2 linked regions of the Homo sapiens genome follow. The protein of the gene in region 1 interacts with the protein of each later gene in a pairwise test. Each region holds a gene or a part of one and is shown on either strand. Other genes may lie near its edges.

Region 1 (7,305 bases):
AACATGGAAGGAATATGAAGGGTGCTCCATGCCTAAAAGCCAGAAGCCAAGAAGCACAAGGGGCTCTAACAGATTGGTTGAGGTACGGCAGTGAAATAACCAGGAAAGACAACCCCTGCTCATGCCCCTTCTCTCATTTGAGACCAGATAGCTGAGAAAGGAGTAATGTTTCCAGGTGGAAACAATGATTGGGACAGAGGGATAGGGTATTATTTCTAGGCACTAGTAGCATTCAGGAAAAAAATAGAGAATACATAATCCAGAAGACCATCCATAAATGGATCCCAAACAGCATCATCCCATGTTGCTATACCATACTCTGAAAATATTATCAAGCACAGCAGTAGCAATTACATCCTCCCTTCAGCATGGGTGAGCTGGGTCAGCAGAGAATGCAGACCAGCTGGCAGAGAGTCTCACACAAAAATGAGCTCACTATCAGCAATCCAGCTGAACACTGGAGAATGCAAATTAAAAAATGAACAAAAAATTTGCAAAGGAGAGTCCACAGAACAAACAAAAAAGCAGCGTTAAATATAATTATTATCCTTGGAAAGATAAAGAAAAGCAGAACCATGAAATGAAAGAACTGTTATAAAAATCCAACATATTTTAAAAATATTTTAAAATTATGTACATATTTGTATATAGTAAATATGTTTAAAGTACATATTTTTAATAGAAAGAAATTGTTGAAACATTTATTAGAAGGACTGAATAAGCAACTCAATTACAAGTTTTAGAGAAATACATTAAACAGAGAAATTATCCCAGAACTTAGAATGAAGAAATGAAAAGTATAAAAGAAATGTTAAGAGACAAATGAATCCAACTGGAAGTTTCATCGTCTTAAAGTTCCATAAGAAGAGAATAGAAAGAATGGTAGAAAGTCAATATTTAAAGTAGGAGCTGAGAATTCCTAGAATTAAAAATACACATAAGTTGATAAGGCAAAAAAGCCTATCATCTACTAAGGAAGATAAGTAAGTTAAACAAACATCTGCACACATGTACATATATCTCTTCAGAGGGAACAGTACAATTTCTGAAATATTAACGTAGAAAAATAACAAATGCAACTAGAAAAAAATATTATTAATCAAAGGATTAAGAAGCAGAATAATATAATACTTCTATCAGCATTAGTGGGTGTAAGAGAACAGTGAAGCAGTATCTTCAAAGGCCTAGAATTTTGTGCCTAGAATTTTATATCTAGCTAAACTAACCTGCATTTAACATGACAATCAGAGGACATTTTTGGATATGCAAGCACTCAAAGTTTGCACCAAAGTTTACCAACATGGGTGTACTGCAGCAAGGAAAAAACAAACTATTCACGACAGCAGTGATATCTAAGAAACATTGTTGGGAAAATTTTTACAATTTTTTTGTTTCCCAAATAAGAAATGAGCAAGGAAAAAGTTATTTACTAACAATCTAAGAAGTTAAAGGAAAAATAACATGAGAGGTGGCGAGTGGGAATCTGAGAAAAGTAAAAATATCTTAAGCTTCTTAACTTGGCAACAAAGGGACTTAGAAACTAGAAACTGATTTTTTTTTCTAACTGCTTCTAAAATTAATAAGTTTTAAAATTTAAAATAATTAGAAGAGCAAACTGGTAGAGGGAAAAATAAAGTATATGTATACACAGACATAGCAGAAGGCATAGGAGGGCTGTAGAACTACTCATGCAGGTCTAAATGCCCTGTCTACTTGTTCCTCTATAGCTCGAGCATTGCCTCCATCTAGACCATTCTTAAAAACCTCACATCTCTCCTTCTCCCCACCCATGATCCCACCATATACTGAACAAATTTATACTACAGTATCTATAATACTTCATTATGTTTGTTGTTTACAAACCAATCTTGCTCATTAGGCATAAACTCTTAAGGACTAGAATAGCCTCCTTCTCATTTCTACATCCCTTCCTATATCACAGTTACTCAATGTTTGTTGAGTGGATGAAAATAGAGGCAATTTTTACATACTTAAAACAACTAGAGAATTGATTGTACATGACCAAGGTTATAACTTATAATAAATTATTTGTTGCAAGAGGCTAAAAACCATGTCTAAGTTACTACTGCATTTCTGACAAAGTCATTCTTGGATATTTTTGTTAAGTTTAGAAATCAACTGAAATCAGGATGTAGGAGGATGTACTAGACAATATTAAGGTGTCTTCCATCTCCAAACTCAAAGTTTAGAGAATAACTTTAAGAGACACTTTGACTGATAGTCCCTGAAATCGTACAACACCTGCAGAAGCTCTATGTCTTCATGGTTTTCAGACCCAGGAGTATTCTCCATCAATATGGCGGACATCACTCGCACATTCATTTTCACCATATCCAATTCACTGTGCAGTTTTCCAATCTGTAGAGAGCAACACAATCACCAGTCAGTGCGACACACAAAGAATAACTACCTTGTTTCCTGCCCCCATGGGACATTTGCTGGATGAAAAAATGCTTTTGCAAAATTTAATATTTTCAAACTTAAATTTAATTTCATATAAATATACATATAGTTATTTTACAAATGTATACCTTGTCACCTTCTAAAAGGACTTGAGATCTCTTGTAATAAACCCCAAAATATGCTTTAGGAATTTTAAAAATGAAAGGAAAAAAAAAGATTAGAACCCAATATGGAGAGGGGAGAAGTACCAGGTACCTAGCAGAAGAAGGTACCAGAAACCTGGATAAAATGGCAAAAGTTATCCTGAGTTTCTTGGCAACCAATAGGGTAAAAGAAAAACAAATGAGGGTTATCCAGTTCTCATGGTATTAAAGAAGAAGGAATAAAGAAACACCTTTTCTTCCTGTATTAAATTCTAAGAGGAATTAGTCACATGCATTTTTATATAAGAAAAAAATAATACAACAAAATCTTCAATTATAGTTCCTTTACAGCAGAACGGAAATTAGCCTCATATAATAATTGTTTATCGGTACCTTGGATAAACTGATATACACAAAGAAGTAAATACAATTCAGTTGGCATAATAAATACAAGTAATAAGACTACCATTTACTAAACTCTCTGAAATATGTGACAGTCCTACCAGAAGTAACAGGAATTAGCTGATGGACCCTAGATCCAGTCCACAGTCAAGGCTCCAGAAAGCCATGAAAGCCGCTAGGCAAGCACAACTCTTACAAAGTTGGGCTTTGGAAGCAGACAGAACCCATGGGATTACTCCTTCTTGGAACTGAACTATGGTAAGTCACATAGTATTACTAAGCCTCAGTCTCTTCCTCTGTGAAATGAGTGTACCTACATCTCAATGTTGTTAACCAGAAAAGACAAACTGTATATAAGGTGCTTACAAATCAGGAAAAGACATCAATTAAATGCAATGATTGTTGTTGTTACCTGTTCTGGGACCAATGTAACAGTCGAGTTCTTTGGAGCAATTACAGAAGAAAGAGCTGGTGCAGTAGGGACAGATGTTGGAGGATTTGATGAGATTTGAGCAGTCTATGAGTATGAAACATGGTAATATTATTATGTGAATTAACATAGCCACCCAACGCCAAGTTTTTTCCATTCAGCTAACTCAAGCACTCTCAAAGTCCTGTGTACAGGGTATCTGCCCAGAGTAAATCATCAGCTACACAACCCGTCCAGCATTTTGTGAAGAATGCTAAGCAAATGACATGCCCATAATAAAGCAGGTATTCAACAAAAGGTGGCTATTAGGATTATCATTTACAATTTAATAAAATGCCCTTTTTTTTTTTTTTTTAACCAAGGGTCTAAGTGATAAACTGCCATGTGAGATTATTGATGCCTTCTCTTTGGGTTGTTAATAACAAATGGTAGCTCAATTCATGTCAAGTCCTTTTAAGCCACAGCTGACAAGGCATCTCCTTCTCCATCAATGACCCTCCTTGGGTCAATGCCACATCTCCAACCTTGGGTGGAGAGGTGAAAGCTCAAGGCTCTAGGCCAGTGCTTCTCAACATTAATGTGCAGAGAAAACACCTGGAAATCTTGTAAAAAGGGAGGTTCTGATTAGTCTAGGGTGGAACATGCCAAACAAACTTTCATACTTTTAGTAGCAAAACACACTTTAAGTAGCAAAATCCCAAGTCTCGGTTATTCTATGAGATATTGCAATATCCTTCTAATAACTTCATCTTTTTGCTTAAGCTGGGTGGATTTAGGGTTGTCTCCTGTAATGAGAAAAGACCCAAGTGATACACTACTATAGTCTCCATGGGTCAAAGAAAGGCCTCCTACCTCTTGTCTTGCTGTTTCAGCCTCTGCTTCTGAGGGAGGAAACTGAACGCCTTTCTTAACCAGGTCGAGGTATACTTCTTTGACTTCGCTTACATCCACACCTCCTGGGAAGCCCTGTGACCAAGTCTGAATTCAAGAGATGAAAAAAGTTCCAGAGTTAAAACAGCAACAAAACCAAAACACAATTCTTTTTTTTTTTTTTTTTTTTGAGACAGAGTCTCACACTATTGCCCGGGCTGGAGTGCAATGGCACAATCTCTGCTCATTGCAATCTCCGCCTCCTGGGTTCAAGCGATTCTCCTGCCTCAGCCTCCTGAGTAGCTGGGATTACAGGCGCCCGCCACCACGCCTGGCTTACTTTTTGTATTTTTTAGTAGAGACGGGGTTTCACTATGTTGGCCAGGCTGCTCTCGAACTCCTGACCTTGTGATCTGCCCACCTCGGCCTCCCAAAGTGCTGGGATTACAGGCGTGAGCCACCGCACCCAGCCGAAAACACAATTCTTAAGCTCCTGATAGAAAATAAGAGATCAATAATTATGTACCCCACTCAGAAAGAGAAAGCTACTTTTGAATGCCATGGGCAAAATGCTCATTTTCAAAGGCTAGGAAAATATAAAATCTTTTAAATCAGATTTCCATGCCTCAAAATCTTGAAGAAACCCTAGGATATATACTATCAATTGTTTTTTGCTGCTCTGAATCCAAAATTAATAGATTCTAAAATAACATCAGTAGCTCTTTTTCCAAGTAACCTTGAACTAGTCAGTTAGCTGGAAGTTTCCCTACCTGCAAAGTGAACACACAGATCACTGTCTTTCCTATTTGACACAGATAAAATAGAAACTGAGAGGAAAGCAGGGAAATGACTACAAATTCTTCAGAAAAAGGGCACCATCCAATGCCAAAAAATTATTATTACACAGAAACTAAAATAGCAAAAATGCTTTTCTAGCTCAATCCTAGATATATAAAAGATAAGTGAAACAATCAGGAGGTAAGCTATTAAATCCCTAATCTTAGAAATTTACCATCCCATGAGGTATACAACAGACTTACCTTAATGAAATTCAAGATTCTATTCTGAATGTCTAATGGCAAGTTGTATCTGGGATTCAGTAGCTTAACTAAATTCTCTTTAACAAATTCCTTCTTCACAATCAGAGACTGGAAACTTGGACCACAGTTCTGCACACACATGTCAATAAGCTAAATTAGAAAAAAAATTAAACATTATATTTATCTGGCAAAACCACCTCCTAAAAATGTAAGGGAAAAACTGCTAAATAATGGGTTCCATCAGCATCCTAATTAACAAACATAATTTAGTATCTACTAAAATATATGGCAAAATGTTAGGTTCTGGGGATATGTGGAAGTATGAGCATAATGTAACAGTCTGGAGGACAGACTTATTGAGGAGTCCCAGCACATCCAGAAGGGCATTAACACCAATGCAGAGTACTAAATGCTAAATGCTGAAGGGACGTGCAGGCCAAACATATGAGCTATGGATGGAATAATATCTGTCCCAGTTTACCCAGGGTAGCACAGGTATATTCCCAATGTCCTGTTTATTAATGATGACACACCCTTTCACTTTCAAAAATGTCCTGGTTTGGATGATAAATTACACAGTCACCCCAGCTATAGGCCCTTATAGGCAAGAGTGATTATTTAGGGCTAGGTGGTCTTACAAGACTTTTGGAAAAGGCTAACTGGAAGCTGGGCTTTGCAAAATGGCTAAGAACAGTAAAAATGAGTATAGAGCTATATTCTAGACAGATAAATTGTATGAAAAATATATAAATGTGGAAAAATGGGTAAGTTATGAAGGGGGAGATAAGTATTCTGGTCTGTCTCTAGTAGAGGCATCCTGATATAGGTAAATTGGGGACACTGGAAAGATAGGGTGGATAAAGTCCGTCCAGGTTGTAGAGAAGTTTGTGTGGCATGCAAAGGGTGTGGATATTATCTTGAAGGCACTATGAAGTTATGGAGGGTCTCTGTTAGTTTGTCACCATCACACCTGTACCCTGAAATTGAGGAAAAGGTTAATGTGTGCAAAGTAATATTCTGGATAGGTTGTCAGGCAGCACTCTGCAAAGGCAAGCGGAGGGAGAAGAAACCTGGAATGATAGAAAGATCCAGTAGCAATGCACTATTTCAGGCATGTTATAGAAAAGGCCTAAACTAAGATGATGTGGGTACAAGAAAAGGAGGAGTCATGACACCATTATGAAGGAAGAACTTTGAATGACAGTGCTGGTCAAAAAAGGAAGATGACTGAAAGTTAAGTGACTCTCATTCTGCATGAGGACCCCTGTGACGGAAATTTGGAAGAGGGGGTGGTATGGCTGGTCTAGGTGTAAAAATGATGGGCTGAAATTTAGATATTTTGAGTTCAAAAGATAAGGGGCATTTAAGTAGGTGTTTAGCAGTGAGCTGGACACACACAGCTATAGTTCAAGAGAGTGAAGGGCCAAAAGTGAGTCATCAAGGCTGCCTACAATGAGAAGAGAAGAGGAAGGGCTGAAACACTGGGGTTCACCTACTATACGGGCCAACGAAAATCCAAGGAAGGCAATCAAAGAGTAACTGACAGAAAATGAAGCACAAAATCAGGAATACATAAGGCACCCCTTTGGTAAAGTCAAAAGAAAAGTTTCCTGGAGGATGGGGTGTTATACAGTTAAGAAGATGGTCTGAGGAACATCAGTTCCCTTGAAAAACACATTTGCAATAAAGCAACATGAGCAGAAACTTGACTAAGAAAGAATGAACCAATACTGAAGAACTGCATGCAGGAAGTAGATTTCTAAAAGTAAACTAAAAACAAAATTAAATCTTTAGTTTCCATGCTACCACCTCAAATTAGAAAGGTCATAGAAACCATAGCATGACCAGGATAGGTATAATCATCTCTGCAGAATAGAAGCCCTGAAAATGGACTTCATGCCATGCTTTGTATTTTTAGTCTCTCTTTAATGGCAATACATAAAGCGGCAGCATATAGCGTTTAAGTTATACTTAAAACGCTATAGTTTTAAGGCAC
Region 2 (3,061 bases), on another chromosome or scaffold:
CAGTGGTGCAATCTCAGCTCACTGTAACTCTGCCTCCCAGGTTCAAGCAATTCTCCTGCCTCAACCTTTGGAGTAGCTGGGATTACAGGTGCCCACCATCACACCTGGCTAATTTTTGTATTTAGTAGAGACGAGGTTTCACTATGTTGGCCATGCTGGTCTCGAACTCCTGACCTCAAGTGATCCGCCCACCTTGGCCTCCCAAAGTCCAGGCATGAGCCACCGCACCCAGCCACCTTCAAGGTTCTGATGACAGCTTTGCCACTGAGGCCTGAGTGACCTGCAATGAATGTTTTCTTTTGTGCTTTAGTTTTCCTGTCTCTAACGTGACCATATCATGCTCCAGAGATTGTCTCTTCTGTCATGAAAAGCCAGAGCAGAGCTAGAGACCCTCAGAGGCCACACAGCCCTGCCCCACTCTATCAAAGTGGAAGCACAGAGGATCTGAACCCTTACCTGCCCTTTCCCACAAAGCCAGGACAGGGACTCAGGCACTCAGCTCCTTAGGCCTCTTTCTTCCCTGTGCCCCACAAGAAGGGCTAATATGAAGCTCCTCTCCAATGTACTCTCGTGGGTGTAGCTGGAGGACAGGAAATAGATCTTTATTATGTCAGTTTAAGCCCTGCGCCATCCCACCCTTGTATCATATCTGTGCAGCAGGCTCCCCTGCACACCCTGAGGCTGTGGCGGGTAGGGGTGGGGTGAGGCCCGGCTAGCCTCCTCTCACCCCTGCTCCAGCCCACCACAGTCATGTCAGCAATGCCTGGCGCAGCATCTGCTTCTTCTGGGGTGTGAGGCGGGTGGGGAACTGGATGTCGAAGAAGATGAAGAGATCCCCTTTCTTAGTGGGGTCCTCCGGCAATGGCATCCCCTCCCCTGGCACCTTCTTGAAGTATTTGGGGCTGAAATAGGATGAAAGAAAGGAGCATAGAGGGCATCCCAGAGCAGCACCTCAGCAGGTCCCTGTCATATAACCCCTACTCACATAACCCCAGGAAGGGGACAGTCACTGCAGTCTTCACCTGGAGTGGTTCTTAGCCAGAACTGGTTGGGAAAGGAGCTCCCTGAAAACCTGTTTACACTGAGTCTCTGATGGAGGATTCCAGAAACTTTGTTTAAGACATGGGAAACGGGAAGTAAAGGTGAGCAAACCCTGGGGTGAGGGCGAGGGTGCTGGGCTGCCAGGCAAACCTCCTCACGGGCAGAGGGCCTTTCTTGGAAAAGGACTTAGGATATGCAACTCAGAACTCTAATGAGAAGTTTGCAGGGCATGGAGGCTACAGGGTTGCCCAACAATGGGGGCCTCTAGCCTCTGCAGTGGCTTTGTGTGGATTAGAAAAAGATGTTCCTTTTGCCAGGTGATTGCAGCCCACAGCTTGGCCAGTGTGGGTTCAGTTTTGGTCCTCTCTATCCCCTCAGCAGGGAACCCTTCTGCTGGGGGCAGCCTGTACAACTCTACTGGGCAGACCTGTCACACTACCACCTAAATCCCAGGCTAGCCCTTCTCTTGGCTACTGGGGCCCAAGGCAGATGGACTCACTGGATGATGTCATTGATGGGGATGTTGAGCAGACGGTCATCTAGGGTCCTCACCTCCACAGTGCAGCAGGTGAGAGCCTAGGGAGGGTCAGGGCCAAAGGTGGGGCTGAGGAGGGTCACCATGGCTCTCCTATTTAGAAGGCACCTTAGGAACCTGTCCAGTGCCAGACTGTGAGTTGGGCACAAGGGAGACGAGGCTGTTCAATAACTAATAGGTGAATGACCCATGCAATTTTCTGCACTGGCAGGAAAGATGGATGGATCTGGCAGGTAAGATGGATGTTGTATAAATGTAATGATGGAGACAGAATAAAAGCGTTTGTGGGAGCCAAGGAGAGGCCCCTAAACCATTCAGGAGTGGGGCAGGAAGTGGTAGCAGTGGTGGTAGCTATTGATGAGGACCCTATAGGGTCAGGTGAATAGACAGCATTCCAGGGAGAGGGCCCAGCAGAAATGAGAACGGAGGTGTGACAATGCGCCACACAGGCAGGGTGCTATGCGGCGAAGGGGCGGGAGTGCAGGGGAAGGAGTAAGCAGGGAGCAGATCGCAGAGGGCCTCCAGTGGCACAAAGATGTTTAGACAGGAGTGTGGCAGGGTCTGATGAGTGTGTGGCAGGATCCCTAAGGAGAAGAGCCTGGAGGAGATGAGAAGTGGGGAGGAAGGCCTGCTGCGCAGATCTGGTGTACAGATCCAGGCGGTGCAGATGAGCAGACGGGACCAAGTGGATGGTGATTTAGAGGGTGGAATCCACAGGGCTTAGTGACTGATGGCAGGTGGTTGTGGGAGGGGAGGCCAAGTCTAGGCCGGGGCAGGCAGGGCTCACTCTGATCTCCTCCCCGCTGCTCCTGCACTTTGCCCACTCACCTTGCCAAGAGGGATGGGGTTCACGAAGAAGAGGTTGTCATTCTCCCTGCGGAAGCGAGGGTGTAGCTTCTCCTTTACGATGAAAATGATGTCTGCTGGGATGATGTTGGGGCCCTGGGCAGGGGACGCCAAAAGGTGACAAGGACTAGTTGGCCGTGTGACCTTGGCCAAGTTCCTGCCTCTACTTGTCTCCATGTCTTCATCTGTACAATGGGGAGATGAGAGCAGGTTTTCTGGAAGGGCCTTTTCAGTTTGGCCCCCATAGCCCAGATGGATTAGAAGCCCGAGAAGCTTACCCAAATGAATCCCCCCAGAATTACTTCTGTACTGAGCATGCCCAAAATAGACACACTCAGCTGGAGGGGCGGAGAGGCTTCCTCAGACGGCAGGCAGGTGGAACACTAAGCTGGGCGTCAGGCAACTGCCCGTATGTCTCTGTCTTGCTAGTAACTCCAGGCATGACACCCCTGTCCCAAACTTCATTAAGTCACCAAAACTCTGCTGAGGTCTCTTCTGGGCGCTGGGGACAGAGGAATCAGACTGGCCCCTAACACTGACAGTGAATCCTCAGCACGCTCAAGACATGATAAAGGGAGGCCCAGAGGCTGGGGCTCAGAGGAGGCTGCCCAGAGCGGGGAACACTGGAGCTGGGTTTTG

Evidence for each region.
Region 2: the proteins of TOM1L1 (region 1) and DNAJB13 interact in binary tests that used the Homo sapiens proteins (3 or more experiments, as listed by UniProt).

What each region holds. Positions count from the first base shown.
Region 1 is NC_000017.11:54,910,820-54,918,124, reverse strand, and holds part of TOM1L1 (TOM1-like protein 1), read right to left. Parts: intron 5,460-7,305; coding exon 5,310-5,459; intron 4,378-5,309; coding exon 4,252-4,377; intron 3,487-4,251; coding exon 3,382-3,486; intron 2,380-3,381; coding exon 2,263-2,379; intron 1-2,262. UniProt on the Homo sapiens protein: Probable adapter protein involved in signaling pathways. Interacts with the SH2 and SH3 domains of various signaling proteins when it is phosphorylated. May promote FYN activation, possibly by disrupting intramolecular SH3-dependent interactions.
Region 2 is NC_000011.10:73,967,802-73,970,862, reverse strand, and holds the end of DNAJB13 (dnaJ homolog subfamily B member 13), read right to left. Parts: intron 2,925-3,061; coding exon of another isoform or gene 2,892-2,924; exon of another isoform or gene 2,519-2,891; coding exon 2,405-2,518; intron 1,618-2,404; coding exon 1,541-1,617; intron 903-1,540; coding exon 749-902; 3' UTR 582-748; downstream 1-581. UniProt on the Homo sapiens protein: Functions as part of axonemal radial spoke complexes that play an important part in the motility of sperm and cilia.